Regions from separate parts of the Homo sapiens genome. Here region 1 is linked to region 2. The links come from fine-mapping of genetic effects on plasma protein levels. A gene starts in region 2. The other region holds a variant in brackets. All regions are shown on one strand. Distances are between the middles of the regions.

Region 1 (8,523 bases), 120 kb after region 2:
TGTGAAATGCTTGCCACCATCCTTCAACTTATCTCCGGTAAAACCCCTCCTTGTTAAGAAATAGGCATTTATCATCTATTCCAAGCTACTACCAATTTCCTGTTGTCTCTTACTTGAGTACTACTACCACTTTCACCCCAGGAGTAAGAAATGTTTCATAATTCAAGGAATATCACTTTTACCATACATATCCAAAATGAAACTCCTACACGCTTCAAGCAATCCTGATTCTTTTTAATTGGTACTTAGCTCTAAATAACATTAGCTTATATCCACTTTCTCAAAATAGAATACTATATATCATTTTTAACACATCATATTCTCTCATCTTCCATATCCATCAGCAAATTCTTGTGATACTACCTTTTACAGATCTCTAGGATCCACCCTCTTTAATTCCACATTCTCCTCCCTAGAGCAAGCAATGTCAATCATCTATGGGGGCAACGGCAGGGCACATCTACTAACTTGTCCCTCTTTATCAACTCTTGTCCATTTCTACCATGGCAATTGGTTAAAAAAGATTCTAATTAGCCCAAGATCCTTACTTAAAATGCTTAAGTTTTTAATAAAAGAATTTAATAAAATCCGGCATTATTCTATATTACTATTAGTTTATGTGTTCTACCACACTGGTCTTCTTTCAGTCACACAAGTTAACTTCAGCCTTTACCACTGGACCTTTTAAATGTTCCTTCCTCTGTCTTAGATTCATTTTCTCTTCATTTATCTGTTTATTTTCTATTTCTTTGTATCAAAGTTTAATTTCTTCAGGAAATCTTCCCTGATCCTAGTATGTCTTTCCCTTATCTCATGGCACTGTGAGACTTATTTTCACAGATCTTACTCTGCTGTAATGTTATGTTTGTGATTATTTTATTCATGTCTGCCTCAACCGTTAAAGAGCTGTAAGTTCCACAAAAACAGAGATAGTTTTATATATTGAGTCTTGAAAACAGAAAGTTCTTAAAAGAATATTTGCTGATTATTGGATTGACTGATATTGGTGGTAGAAGGTCCTTTATTCCACTCAGATTTCTTCTTTCTACATCCATCTTCTGGGATTATAGCATATTACTTCTTTAATAATTTTGCTTTTGGTTTGAGATTTTTTTTGAAAAACACCACCTTCAGTCCTTAGTAACCTGTAAGTACTTCCTTCACTTAACTCTTTATCAGCAATATCTGTATATGCAGCATACAGCACAGCTTCATTTGTTAGATGTCAATAATATTTTGTTGACCAAATGAATCAATTAATGCATGAAAGTGAAGTTAATGGTAAGTAAAATCACGGAAGTCTTACATGGTGAATATAATTTACTGGGAGGAGCCTACATTGAGGATTTATCCAAAAGTGTAATTGACTGGCAGCAGCAGCCCACCTGGATCAACTGCTGCAAAGATGCCGGCTGCAGCAGGGGAGGCACAGCTGGCAGCATGCTCCATGGATCTGGCAGGAGTCAGAAACAGGTGGAATCTCTGCTCCCTTCCTAGTTGGTGGGGCAGGAGCCCTTCCCTCCCGGGTGCAGCTGCAGCTGCCCAGTTGCCCTGGTGGACCTGGACATCCTTGGGCTCTTGAAGACTGTGAAGCCCCCTTCACTCACGGGCTTGGAAGTGCCTGCTCCCCACGCCTGGCCTCTCCCCACCCCCAGTGCCTACTCTGATTTTGGAGCCAAGTTGAGGCCAAGCGTGGGTGCTGTTGCAACCTGGCAAGGTGTGCTTGCACTTGGGGCAGTGCTGAAATGCCAGCCCCCTCCCACCTCAGCCCCCTCTGGACTTTGATCACCAATGAACATGGGAGGAAGGCCAAGGGGGCCCTGAGGGAAGCTCAGTGTAGGCCTGAATGCACCCCTCAGCACAAACAGCCTGGGTGCCTGGACAACATGATTAATGATGACAGGAGGCAGACAAGAAAAGGGGCAGGTCCCCGGTAAAGCCAGACCTTCAAGCCAGGGATGGCTTGAAATCTGGGGTCCAGGCTGTCAGTTCCAGGTGGAGTCCATGGCTCAGAGTGAGAACTTACGGTGCTTTTTCCAGGCTTGCCCATGGCCACCCATGGACTAATCAGCATGCACTTCCTCCCTTCTGAAGCCCATAAAAACCCTGGAATCAGCTACACTCACAGAGACGTTAGGACTACCAGCTGTGGGAAGGAGCTATCAACTGCAGCAGGTCTTCTCTCTGCTGAGAACTGGACACTCGTTAGGATGACCTGCCTAAGGAAAGGAGCTACTCACTACAAGTCTCCTCTCTGCTGAGAACTGGACACTTATCTGGACGACCTGCCTATGGAAAGGAGTCAGCTACTTCAGGTATCCTAAGAGCTGTTCTGTTGCTCAATGAAGCTCCTCTACTGCCTTGCTTCCCCTCCAGTTGTTCACAGACCTCATTCTTCCTGGACACGGGACAAGAATTTGGGACTTGCTGAATAGCAGGACTGAAAGAGTTGTAACACAAACGGGGCTGAAACATGCCCCACCTCACCATGTTACAGGTGTCAAGAAGGAGAGAAGAACTGCAGCTTTTGGGGATCCTAGACCTAGGGTCTTCCCTAGCCAGGGCTGCAACACCCTCTTTGAGGCTCTGTGGTTCCTGGCATTTCCAAGCTTCTGGGTACCACTGTGTTTCCCGGTGCTAGAAGTGGAAGCCAATTGTGGTACTCGTGGTCCAGCCACAGCCTTGCATGGAGCAGGGGCCTGGAGCTGCCTGCCCTGCTACAGCCAGCATGCCTGGCTGTGTGCAGTGACCAGACCCCACCCTTGCTCACACATCCCTAACTGCTTCACTCCTGGCTCACCCTTGGCAGGCAAGGGATCCGGTCCGGTAGCGTAAACTGAGTGCAGCCTACTGGGCCAAGTGGGTGGAACAAGCCCAGAGGGCCTGAGCAACACTCAAGCAGAAGGCACCACTGGCTACCAAGGTTTCTTGTTGGCAAAGTGACACCCCAAGGATCCCCTGACATTTTTGGAGGTGCTTTTCTGGGATCTTCAGGAGAGTGAGTAAAAGAGGACTTGCTGCTTTCCATCCTTTTTTTTTTTTTTTGGAGTCAATAAACTACACACTAGCCAGAATGAAAGAAAAACATGGGCCTCTGTTCAGCCAACTAAAAGCAACAAGTGTGGTTGCTGGACTTAAGACACAGAGGACAGGCTTGCTGGGGGTACACTGTCAATCACTTGTCACTCTTGGGTCTTGGGAATGTTGGCCTTTTGCCAATCCGGTTTCCCTTCACAAAAATTTAGCTGTCACTTGAGACTGGAAGGAGGTCCTGGGGCAACTGCAGATATCTGACTGAGGCTACACCTTAGTGTTATCCAAAGGCCCCTGGACTAACTCCCATCCCCAACTGCCCATTAGGGTGTCAGCACTAGGGCCCTCAGTCTTTCCTATCACACTTTTTGTCTCATTCTCTCTTTCTTTCTCTCTCTCTTTCTTTCTCTCCCTTCCTTCCTTCCTTCCTGCCTGCCTTTCTTTCTTTCCTTTCCTTTC[CTTTCT/T]TTCTTCTCTGACTATAATGGCTACTATTCTCTTTTTTATATACAATGTTAAGGGTACCTCAGAGAAAATATTACTGGCTAGAATAAGCACTTGGAAGCCCGCCATGGTGGCTCACACCTGTAATCTCAGAACTTTGGGAGGCCGAGGTGGGCAGATCACCTGAGGTTAGGAGTTCGAGACCAGTCTGGCCAACATGGTGAAACCCCATGTCTACTAAAAATACAAAAAATGAGCAGGGAATGGTGGCAGGCACCTGCAGTCCCAGCTATTTGGGAGGCTGATGCACAAGAATCGCTTGAACCTGGGAGGTGGAGGTTGCAGTGAGCCAAGATAGCACAACTGCACTCCAGCCTGGGCAATAGAGTGAGACTCCATCTCAAAAAAAAAAAAAAAAAAAAGAAAACAAAAAAGACAGAAAGAAAAAAGAAAAAATAATAAGCGCTTGGCTTAGTGATCAGGAATGTAAATCAGAAGAATGTAATGTGGTATCTGTCTATTGTTAGAAGCAAGGAGAATGTAACAACTGAGACTTTTCTTTCCCCTGTTGAAGGAAGCCATTTCCATAGGGAAAGAGGCTTTCCCCTGGGCACCTTCCCCTTCCCTGCACTTCAGTTTTTTCTTTTTTATTTTTTTTTTCTTTTTCCTCCACCATGTAAGCAGTCAACATAGTGCATTGGGGGAGCTTTTCTACGCAAGAGATTTTTTTTTTTTTCCTTTTGAGAGACATCTTATTAGGCCCAGTCCTAAATTCCCAGGACTCCCTTTCTTTCCTTGGTTTGAAGGGGACCTCGTTTCACAGTTTTACTTTAGCATTCTGCTTATGATAGGGAAGAAATGAAAGAGTGGCCTCGGCTGCCCCACCAATTACTGGCTGCAATTTGGTAAGGGCTACCTGGGACTTAATTTAATGAGTCCGTACAAAGGGAAAGCTAAACCTGAGGTATCCAGAGGCAGATGAAAGTGCAAGTCAGGAGGCACAGTGCAGGTGAGCATGACTAATTCCTACCATTAGGGCCTTCCACTTCTGGATGGAGGTCATGTTGCATCCATGGCATAGATAAGGTCTAGGGAACTCAAAGGTGACTGACAATGGGAGAATAGGGCAGCATAAAGGTAAGTGCAAATATTCTTATCCACTAGGCCTCCCTGCTACATGGGTGAAAGTGGCATGTGCAAAGGTTGCCGGGACTTAGGGATATAATGTCAAAATAAAGAAGGTGATGTCTTTTTTTTCTCTCCCTCATGTACCCTGTGTATTGGCTTGAAAGAGAAAGGAACAAATGGAAACCATTTCCCCCCTCTTTCCAGATGGGTAATCAACCATTTCAGCCTGCACTCTTTTCGAGTGCTTCCTGAATCCCTGGGACCCCCTTGACCCTCAGACTCTGGAGAGAGGAAAGAATGCCTTTTCCCCCTCTGTCCTCTCTTCCAGAAGGGGAACCAATCATCTTTAGCCTGCACTCTTCTCAAGTGCATCCCGAATCTCTGGAACTCCTTTGACCCTCAGACTCTGGAAAAAGAAAAAAAAAAAGGTTTTTTCTTCCTTTTTTCCTCTTCTGTCTTCTCTTTGAGGATGGGTAATTGCATCTCTACACCACAGGACACTCCCCTCAGATGCATTCCCCAAACTGAGAAGATATTACAAATCTAACTGAGCAATCTCTTGAAGAGGGACAACTTTTACAGTAAGGCTTATCAGTTTTACCTGTGAGGTTAATTTTGTTAAGGCTCAAAAGCCAGCCATATTGGCCATTTGGCATGGCTAAGGCTGGTTAATAAGACATTTAAGAGGACTTTTTAAAAAAGGATTTCTGGCCGGGTGCGGTGGCTCACGCCTATAATTCCAGCACTTTGGGAGGACAAGGTGGGTGGATCACGACGTCAGTTCAAGAGCAGCCTGGCCAAGATGGTGAAACCCCATCTTTACTAAAAATACAAAAATTAGTTGAGCATGGTGGTGGGTGCTTGTAATCTTAGCTACTCAGGAGGCTGAGGCAGAGAACTGCTTAAACTTGGAAGGCGGAGGTTGTAATGAGCTGAGATCATGCCACTGCACTACAGCCTGGGCAACAGAAAAGGACTCCATCTCAAATAAATAAATAAAAAGGATTTATATGGTTAAAAGTCAGCTTAACTAAAAGTGGATATCCAAGCTACAGGCATATCAGGCATATATAAAAGACCTTTATGTCTTTTCTCTCAATGGATCTAGTTTTTCTGGAAAAAGGATTTTTTTTTCCTTTTTAGCCAACTTAATTATTTTTCTCCATTTCATCTTGCCACTCCTAATGCACACATAAGAGGCCCTAAGACAACTTTTGATGGTTTGGAACTCCTTGGGAAGAACAGAAGAGATGCCACTGACCCCATTTTTGTAAAAAAAGAAAAACAAAAACAAAAACAAACAAACAAACAAAAACCTGTTTTTCTCATGGAACCCCAGGAATTAGAGGCAGATAGATCTCAAAATCTGTTTTTGTCTTCCAACTATGCCTGCTTATTAGGCCCTAGATACTGCATGGTTTCATAGCCCTGTTTCTTAAAGGGCTCCACCCTGAGGCCAGTAAATAAAATTAGATGGGCAAATGAAAATCTAACAACTACTGGATCTTCTTTCTCTGTAGTTATGTATGTGTTCTATGTGTGGTGCTTATATAAAAAAAAAGAGCTTTAATTGACTGGTTTAAGGAAAAAATAAGCATTTGCATAAAATATTTTTAAAGAAAAATAAAGCTGTAATGCCTTTTTGTTCACATGACTTTAATCTTTGAGAAATAAAAACAGCTTTAAAGATTATTGGTAAAATAAAAATGTCTTCAAAGTGTAGACATATGGGCTAGTTGCAGTGGCTCACTCCTGTAATGCCAGCACTTTGGGAGGCCGAGGCGGGCAGATCACGAGGTCAGGAGACTGAGACCATCCTGGCTAACACGGTGAAACCCCGTCTCTACTAATATGCAAAAAAAAAAAAAAAAAAAAAAAAAAAAGTAGCCGGGCGTGGTTGTGGGTGCCTGTAGTCCCAGCTACTTAGGAGGCTGAAGCAGGAGAATGGTGTGAACCTGGGAGGTGGAGCTTGCAGTGAGCCAAGATCATGCCACTGCACTCCAGCCTGGGCAACAGAGTGAGACTCTGCCTCAAAAAAAAAAAAAAAAAAAAAGTAGACATATGGTCTACATTATGCAGGTCAGATACTAGGGTTGCTAAAGGCTTTAAGGTCATGAAATGCTTCTTCGGCTTTTGAAAATTGTTTGACTTGCCTTCTTTTCAGCTTGGTAAGGCCTGGGGACATATGAAGTTAACCACACCCCGACTATGTTGGAAAGAGTTAGGCCTTATCTGCACCTAGTACATAATTAAAATAACTTATCATGTTTTACACCAAAATTTAAAAAATTGCTAAGAGTTACCATTTAACATGTATTGAGACTACTGAAAATAGATTTACATGCAAGGTGTTTAAGGTAAGTAAAATGTGTTTTTAATAAAAGATTATAGGAAGACATGTAAATTTTTTCTTACTGTAGAGGGTTAAATAATTATTTTTAATTAAGATAAAGCTAAAGGTTTAAATGAGTTGGGAAGGTTTGTAAAACTTAATATTGTAAAATAAAATCTGTGTGTGAACATACTGACTAAATTCAAAAGGGTATTATTCGATTTTTCCATAAATTGAGCATTGGAATAAAAGCACAAGTGTTTCTTAAGGCACTGATATACTCTTTAACAAAAATTAGTTAAGAGTTATAAAAGGTTTGTAAGAATCTCACCTCATGGTCAAACTGATTAAAATTGGATAGATTTTTCTATAAGTTTTCATTAAAAAATTGGGATTGACATTAAAAGACAAATAAAGGGTGAAATTTGTCTATCTCTCTTGAACAAGATTTTCATGTAATGTTAAGGATATTGAAAAATTTTAGTTTGTTTTGTGAATAAACTACTGAAAAAAGAAGGAAAAGACAAGAGACAGATCGTTTGGAAAGCTGAGTCTGCCCTAGTAATGAGTAAAGGTTTTTGCTTTTCCAAAAAAATGTTGAAGCGGCTGGGCACGGTGGCTCACGCCTGTAATCCCAGCTTTGGGAGGCCTAGGTGGGCGGATCACAAGGTCAGAAGATCAAGACCATCCTGGCTAACACGGTGAAACCCTGTCTCTACTAAAAAATACAAAAAATTAACCGGGCGTAGTGGCAGGTGCCTGTAGTCCCAGCTACTTGGGAAGCTGAAGCACGAGAATGGCGTGAACCTGGGAGGCGGAGCTTGCAGTGAGACGGATCGCGCAACTGCATTCCAGCCTGGGCCACAGAGCAAGACTCCGTCTCAAAAAAAAAAAAAAAAAAAAAAAATGTTGAATCATCATTTTGGCTAAATAAATTACTTATGGTAATCTGGAATTCTTTTTATAATATCAAGTGTTTTAAACCTTTAATGTATTTGATAGGCTTCCCCAAATCAAATTTCAGCTTCATAATTATCTTTTCTGACCCCTAATTTTGGGATGCTACAGAGGGCCCCTGGAGCATTCAAACAAGAGGTAAATAGGATTATTTGACATGTTTAGTTACATGGGATTTTCCAAATAAAAATAAGGTTTAATCTTGTTTAAGTTATATTTTAGTAAACGATAATGTATGTTCCAAAATTGTATGGGATTTCTAAAATTCAAATGTCTGAGTATATGCTAGCAATCATAAATAGCATTATTATGTTAAGTTACCGTAAGCCACAGAAATAACCAAATTTCCTTGTCAATTGTGTTTTTGACTGTGAACTAACCTAAGACATTTTGTCATCCACAGGCAATTGTTGTCTTGTATTTATTCTCTTCAAAGGATAGTTTATAATCAGTTATAGGACTTGGATAGGTTCTCATTGGTTGTTTTGAAGTTTTTCTCTGCATTTTAGATTAACCCTGCTTATTCCTGTGAACTAGCCAACTATCTCTGACTGCAGCTCAGACCAAAAAAAAGGGATAGGTAAAGTAAAAATCTGGATGAACATTCTAATTCTGGGCAATTATCCTGTAAA
Region 2 (8,523 bases):
TTCAACAGTCTGTGTAGGATTTCAGAAGATTGAATATACATATAAATATATATACATACACACATGTATATATACACACACACATATATGTATATGTACTTTGTCCATGTCGTATTTGGTTATTCCAATTCTGGGAAAATAAATTAAGAAAATAATTAAAAGATGCACTCAAATATCGATATACAAAATGCCTATTGTAATAATACATAAAAAAAGTCAGAAGCTAACCTCGGTATCTGTATGATTTGGAGCAAGTTACTTAAACTCTTTGTGGCTATATTTTCTCAAATGTAAAATAAGGTTAATAATAGTGCTTATTTTAAAGGTAGTCATGAGTTTTAAATGAATTCATGTATTCAAAGTGGATAGAATAGTGCTTTCAAATAATATTTATTACCTAAAATTATTATTATCATCATATAAGTAACAAGAGATACAATGAACCATAATATGCCCATATGATAATATATCACACAGTAATCAAAATATTTTAATAGGAAATTAATATCATAAGATAAAAAGCAAGAAGAATGATGATAAGCCATTTGACTACCACTATATTTATCTATGTAACTATAACCACATACACATATTTTAAAAAATTGATTGGAATATACAAAATGGTCTTTTCATTCTCTGTGATATGTAAAATGTAGAAATATACTTTTCTGGGCTGGATGCAGTAGCTCACACCTATAATCCCAGCACTTTGGGAGGCCGAGGTTGGTGGAGCACCTGAGGTCAGGAATTCGAGACCAGCCTGGCCAACATAGTGAAATCCTGTGTCTACTAAAAATACAAAAATTAGCCAGATTTGGTGGTGGGTGCCTGTAATCCCAGCTACTCAGGAGGCTGAGGCAGGAAAATTGCTTGAACCCAGGAGGCAGAGGTTGCAGTGAGCCGAGATCCTGCCACTGCACTCCAGCCTGGGCGACAGAGTGAGACTCCATCTCAGGAAAAAAAAAAAAAAATCTATCTATCTATCTATCTATCTATCTATCTATCTATCTATCTATCTATCTATACTTATATATACTTTTCTTTGTTATCCATATTCATTTCAGAGAATGCAGTGCTATTGTAAAAAAAATGAATAAAATTAATATAAGTTTAGAGCACTTTTTTGGCATCAGTATGCCTAAGGAAAACTAATGTATAATACAGGATTAATGTTTTTCACACCATCTCAAATCTTACTGAATGCTGCTATCTAGAAAACAGTGGTAACTGAGTTACAATGGGACCTTAAAAGCAAAAAACCACTGTGACTGGCTAACTGAAAGTGATCATAGAGCCAAAACCATAATGATTGTCCTGCCCAAGCTTCAGCATATATGGTTGCAAAATGTGCGCAGTGTTAATGCCGTGTCAAGTGTCTTGTGGTATTTCATCAGTGTCGCTTACAAGGCATACTCAACATTTAACAGCAGGATCATTAACCATCCATGCTGTGATGTAATGGAATAGTGCTTCCCTACTAACCCTGAAACAAGCTCACTGTGTGTGACCTACATCCTTCCGCTGGATGAGTGTGAGAAAATGATGACACCACAGAAGCAAAGCAGCTGCTGTAAGTTGAGCCACAAGGAAGAAACTCTCAAGACAGGAAGAATAAATGCTTTAGAGGTGCACTAAAATAATGAATGAACTAATGTGGCATAGCTGTGAAATCATGCGAGGAAAAGAACTACAGGGACAGTAACAGAAGGTGGTTCTTTGAAGTAAAGACATTGAGAAGAAGAAAAATTGCCAACTTGTGTAATCAGTTGATGTTGCTAGTTAGCCAGTTTAAACATGCGTTAAAGATAAAGATCTGCTTGAAACCAATTATTTTATTGTTTGGCTTCCTGTTTAAAGATGAAAATGAAATATGTGTATATATGTGACATATTTTACCTAGCAGTGAGTAGATGCAGGAAGCATGTAAAATGCTTTGCTGAATTCACTAACGTCACAAAATATTCCTTAATAATTGCCGCGTTTGATAGGCTGACCTTATGCTAGCACAGGAAACAATGCAGTGGACTTGGGTTGGAGAGAAGAATTTTGACATTTGGATTTTTAAAAATCATGTATATTGAACCCATGAACTCTCATGTGGAACATCAGATTTACTATATTTTAAACAGAAATGCCATCACTATAAAAACCATTGCAAATTTGTCAATATACTTCCATTTAAAAAGCCTTTTCCTGCTTTTATTGATTTATTGATTAATTTTTTTTTGAGACAGGATCTCACTCTGTCACCCACGATGAAGTGCAGTGGCACAATCGTGGCTTGCAGCCTCGACCTCCTAGGCTCAGGTGATACTCTTACCTCAGCTACCTCCCAAGTAACTGGGAATGTAGGCTTGCACCACCATGTCTGACCCATTTTCTTGCAGAAATTGAGTTTTGCTATGTTGTCCAGACTTGTCTTGAACTCCCAGACTGAAGCAATCCGCCCACTTAGGCCTCCTAAAATGTTGGGATTACAGTCATGAACCACTGTGCTCCACCTCCTTTTTCTCCTTTTCAGATAGATTATGTATTCTGTACCTTTTGTGTAACTAACTTGTTATTACATAAACTATATTCTAAATACATTATAAATTATTGTGATCATGATATTTATCATTGAATTAACACTGCCTAAGTAGCAATTTTCACAGAAAAGATAATTTTAAAAGACCAAAATGGTTATTCTCTTGGAAGCAGTTGACATAAAATAACAGAATAATACAGATTAAAATTCTGTTTTCCAACAGCTACTAGTGGTAAGAAATATAGTAAGCTTCTGATTTGTAGAAACCTTAGCTTTCTCATCTGATGAGGTGGTTAATAATATTAACTCTCATATTTGCTGAAATAATATAAAATATTTAATATAAATTGTCAATTATAATGACTGGCATAAGGTAGAATTACAACAAATGCTAATTATATTTGCTTGTTTGAAAATTTAACACTCTATTAAAAGGCAAAAAAGTGCTCACCTGCAAATATTAATACATGCCTTCTGTTTAGTCCATAGAAAGCCCACAAGTAAGAGATTCAAAAGTGAAAGCTATCACTTACAGAAGATTAAGAATATATTGCATTGAGAAGATAGGGATTAAGGAGTTTATCAAAGGTTTTTTAAAAAATTATTTTCCTGAACATCATTTCAAGAAAGATAAGCGCCAAAGACATAAATATATTCTCCAGAGCATGTGCACTGCAAGTTGACAAATGTGTCTCTTTTATAGAGTTTGGTGAAGGTTATTCATTTTATTTTTCCTGTCTTGACCAGAAAATTGTGGCTTCTCATCATGTATGACTGCCTGCAGGGTCTTCTGAATAGGAAATTACCAATGCTGAAATTTGTATGACTTAAATAAGTGTTGAAGTGTGGGGGTTGAAAGGAGATACATATCAGAGACATCCATTCAGTTAATAGAACTAAGTTTTTGATTTGCATAGCTTATATCTAGAGCATTGTGTTTCTTATTTTCTATATTACTATCTTCTCTAACTATATAATTAGCACAGATTGAAGCTATAATGGATTTCAATAATAGCACTACTTTAGAATGATGTATACGTCTTTAAATCTTAAGACAAGCATAGGAAATATGTATATTCTTAAAAAAAGGAAAATTTTTTTAAAGTTTAGAGTTAAAAGAAACATGCATTTTCTGTTACATTTCAGATTATTTTAGTTAAAGAATCTTCTATGCTTTTTTTCTTCATTCTTAGAAGACTACCTGCAATTGTAAAGCATGAATCCTGTAATACTTCTGTAAATGAATCACTATTGCATTTATACCATTAGCCTCTGAACAGATTTCAAGTTGCTGCTGCCAACTCTCGCGAGCTTTGTCAGTAACAGTTGATTGTTACATTCAGTAACACTGAATGTCAGTGCAGTCCAATTTACAGGCTGGAGCAGCAGCTGCATCCTGCATTTCCCCGAAGTATTACATGATTTTCACTCCTTGCAAACTTTGCCATCTTTGTTGCAGAGAATCGGGTAAGTTGCTCTGAATTTACACCTTCGTGTAGAGATCCAAGTTACTGTAAAGCTCATTCTGTGGGATGAGAGTGATCTCTTCATGTGTTTGTTGTGTCCCTTTGGTGCTCTGTGGGGAACAGTTACTGAAGCTTGCAAATGGGACAGAGGAAGTGAGCCAGCAGGCACATGCATCAAATCTTCCTATTATTCAGGGAACGCAGACTTTGTTTATTTAACTGCTGAGAAAATAATGAATTTATTCAACTCTGTATAAAGGACCATAGCACGTGTGGAATCACTGTGATATATATTCTTAGTGAGTTTCCTAAGAAAAAACATTTCATACTGGCTTACCCTTAAATGCATTGTTTATTGAATCTCTCTGTAAAAGTAATCTTTGATTAGTCTTCCTTTTTTTTTCTTTTTAAATGGGATAAAGTTAGTAGTTAACTTACTTTTTCCTGAACAAAATACTTTTCTCAATCAACATTTTGTCACCTAAAACTTTAACAGTAACAACTGGCAAATGAGAGGTCTGTTTATTTTATGTAAATAAAAACAAAACCTGTTTTCTAATTTGATTTACAGTGATTTATGAGCGTGTCCCCTTTGCCCTTTGTGTTCACTTTTTATATGTTTGTTTAAATTGTAGCAAAATATTTTACATTTGCTATTATTTTACTATTATAGAAATAGTAAGCAAATGTACTTTCTGCTCATCCTATAATCTTGTAAAACTATTATTTTGATAACATCAGTTCCACTTTAACCAGGGAATTAAATATTAAGGATTATAAAATCTATGAATGACTAAAAGTAAACTGAAATGTGATTTCATTGTTTATGATTTCTATTTATTATATATTTTTATTTTATGAGTATGTCTTCTACATTTTTATGAATATATTTCATGATAATAAACTCAATTAGGAGCTCCTGTCACTAGTCTGTGTAATGCCTTCCTTAATATAAACTATCTCATAGTTACAATAAATACAATGACAGTTTACTTATATAAGTAGTTACTTTGTTTAAGGATAAGCGTGAGCTTTTAAAGTGTGACTTTAACATTTGAATAAAAATCTTCAGAATTTTCTCTGGATATAAAATAAAGTAGTCTTTTGGATGCCAAATAAATTTCTAATTGGGTTATCAAAGTTCTGTTTTGTTCTCCTAATTTTTTGTTGTTGTTGTTTGTTTGTATTGTCCTAGTTTTTTAATTGTAAAAATATGTTTGGGATGTATTCCATATTTCATTTTTATAAAACATAAGCTACTAATAGCTAAACAAGTCACATCTTATCTATAAATTTGGTTCCTTCTTCGAGTCATTTCTTGATAAGTATAATATATATTTACATTGAATATTATCTTCATTTCGATGGTTTCTTGCCAGCATCTGCTCATTCTTACCAAAATTAGACGGTCCCAGATGTTAAGAGAATTGTAATTGAATAGATAGCAACCTAAGAGGAGATTTAATTTTCAGAGAAGACTCAAGAAATCTCTCTAATAAATGTTCAAATTATTCACACAATGAAGTTTGCAAATGTTCTTCCTAATTGAGGACAGATAAAACATCTTAAGTTTCTTATATCTAATGTAGTGTCTTCTATATGTATACATGCCTAAAGCATAGCTGAAGAATCCCTGAAAGACAGTGATGTAGTCTATTTATAATCAGACTTCCTCAATTCCCCACTTCACTTAGTCTGCAACAAAACAAGCTTTTTAAGTTTGATATAAAGACGTCGTTGTTCCAATTTCTTCAAATACATTTAAGAGAGCTTGTTCTAGATCATATTAATATTATCTAGATGGCTCTTTCTCTACCATTTTAAGAGGGTTTATTTCCAAGTAGAAATAAATATTTATTTAATTGTAACTTTTTAAAAGATAGGGAAATTATACACAGGGAAAATATTTTGAATATTTGCTTGAACATCTTTTAAAAATTCTTGGCTTGTCCCTTATTTTGAAAATCTGGTTGATATTCAAGTATCCCAAAAAATAGCTCTTTATACAAATTATTTTATCACACTCACATCTTATAGTATAACATTTAGTATTTTTTGTTAAAATCAGCTAGGGAATATTAATAGTACTTTCAAAATTGAATTAAAAATACAAAAAAAGATTTGTCACCTTTTTTATTTGAAAGTTATTGTTATAACAGTTTAGCATTTTCAAAAATTGCCAGTAAATTTTCTTAATTCCAAACAAAAACTCAGTTCCTCAAAAACTCAAATTCCTCAAAAACTCAATTCCTCAAAAACTAGAATGGTCTGAATTCCAAACAAAAACTCCTGTCTTTATTTCCAATATTAAATACTATTTTGATAAGCAAATTGATCTAAATTCAGATACACAGCTGTATTTGTGAAAATGTGCCCCATTTTTATGATAATGTTTATGCTACTATGTTCTCTCAGAATCATGTGAGACAGTATCCAATTGCACCAGAATTTATTAAAAGAAAAACGATCAAACCTGCACGTTGTGCACATGTACCCTAAAACTTAAAGTATAATAATAATAAAATTAAAAAAAAGAAAAACGATAATGTTTTGTTGAATATCCTAATCATTAATAAAAATTTTGAGATATAGACTCAATATTTTTATTCTATTTTCATTTATTTCTCTTTCGATTGCTCAATTACATGATAAACATATCAAAATTTTTAAAGTCTTTTAATGGCAAAACTACAGAGTAGCATGTTAGAATAGATAATACCAGATTATAAAAAGGGCAAAGTGATGCTTATTTAAAAAATAAAGTACTGCAATTAAATATAAAAACATTAGCCTACAATACACTAACAGTATATGAACATCTGCATATTTTTATATTAAAGTACACATTAAATAATATGTCATATGACACTCTGCAACAATACATATGAGTTAGCATTATATTGTCATTTTTGCAATGAATGCATGCTTACAAGAATTGCTTTGATTGTTACCAATTACATTATTTGCAAGTTGATAACTCAGATATCATTATCGAAAAATTAAAGATTTTAATTCATACCATATTATTATATAACAAGACCTACTCAGCATAAAATATAAATATCAACATATAATAAATTTTGTATTAAATCAAGTTAAGTGACATGGGAAGATATTACAACCATTTAGATGTTATAGCAACTGTTTAACATAAACAATGAAACATCACATTTCATAATTACACAAAACACAAATACAGTTTTGTAGCAACTATAGTACTTGCTTTGCAATAATATAAACTGTTTGTAGAACAAGTTTGAAAACTATCAGAGACCAAAATTTATTTCAATTTGGTGTTTGGTTTCTAAAGACAAACTAATATTCAAATAAAATCAAGGAAAAAATAGATGGCTTTTGCATTAGACTTAGAAGAACATTGACTGAGCTAGGCAAGAGGGAGAATGGGTACAACCAGGGATGATGCAATTAATTTATTAAATTGCAGCTTAGAACGAACCGCCCAATCAGCTTTGCACCTTATTCACTTTTTCTTCCCAGAGGATGTTTTCAAAACAGAAAATAAAAAAAATCATACTAGCACTTTGTTTTTCTCCAGATGCTCTCCTGCATTTATTAAAGAGAAAAGGATTAGCGGTTATCAGAAAGAAAAAAGAACTGAAGCAGTAGAGTGCCTCTAAAACTTTGATTATGTCTGAAATGTTATTAGTGTCAGGTAACAGGAAACTTTAAGTCATTGTTATATTTTACTTATTTATTTACTGTGATTTATGATACAGTCATACAATACATAATGATGCTTCAATCAATAATGGTGGTCTTATACAATTATAATATAGTATTTTCACTGTACCTTTTCTCTGTTTACATACACATACAGTTACCATTTTCTAACAATTGCCTACAGTATTCAGGAACATGTTATACAGATTTGTAGCCTAGATGCAACAGCCTATACCATATAGCCTAAAGGTGTGGTAGGCTATGGCATCTAAGTTTGCGTGAGTACACTTATAATGTGTGCACAATGATTAGATCGCCTAACAATGCATTTCTTAGAATGTATCCCTGTCAATAAATGGCATATGACAAGGATACATTATATAATAGTACCTAAATTATATATAATAGTACCTAAATATCATGAATGTAGAAATGCTGCTAAAAATATATTTTAATTATGTTTTATTGATCTTAGCACACATCTAATTGTACCAAACAGAACTGAAAAAATAATAATCTTGTGGCTTGATTTTTTTAAAACCTTATTATTATAGCAGTCATTTTATATGTAAATATATATGCATATACATATGAATATTGTTAGAATTAGATATAGAAATAGATATATCCATTAAGTATCAAGCCCTGAACCAAATGCTCCAGACCATGGATTAATAAATTGAGATATTTATTGGGATAAAAAATACTTGTAGGTCACTAGATATCCTATGACCATTGGTGAATTAGGCTGATTTGAAATATGATACCCTACGTCTGGGACATAGGCATTAGAATAGTTATTTATTCTCTTTCTTTGAGAAAATCTAAATTAAATAAACAAAGACAAAA

Which allele goes with the higher level. Alleles are on the strand shown, and positions count from the first base shown. The strength of an association depends on the size of the effect and on how common the allele is.
With allele T in place of CTTTCT in region 1, the plasma level of the protein whose gene starts at base 3,885 in region 2 is higher (strong association).

Evidence for each region. PIP is the chance, under the fine-mapping model, that this variant and not a neighbour inherited with it causes the effect. Protein levels are from antibody-based Olink assays in UK Biobank. Linkage for the fine-mapping came from a reference panel and not from the study's own genotypes, which makes the PIPs less certain.
Region 1: its variant is fine-mapped to the plasma level of the BCHE protein (UK Biobank, PIP above 0.99).

Annotation. Positions count from the first base shown.
Region 1 is chr3:165,714,308-165,722,830 of GRCh38, reverse strand. No RefSeq gene overlaps it. Among named protein-coding and RNA genes, the nearest start is that of BCHE, 120 kb to the left of the region's middle. RefSeq lists enhancers at 1,102-1,602, 1,603-2,103. The variant CTTTCT/T (reference allele first, on the strand shown) is at 3,493.
Region 2 is chr3:165,832,785-165,841,307 of GRCh38, reverse strand. BCHE (butyrylcholinesterase) reads left to right here and starts at 3,885. Exons shown (of 4, transcript NM_000055.4): 1 at 3,885-3,994. RefSeq lists an enhancer at 3,773-4,067.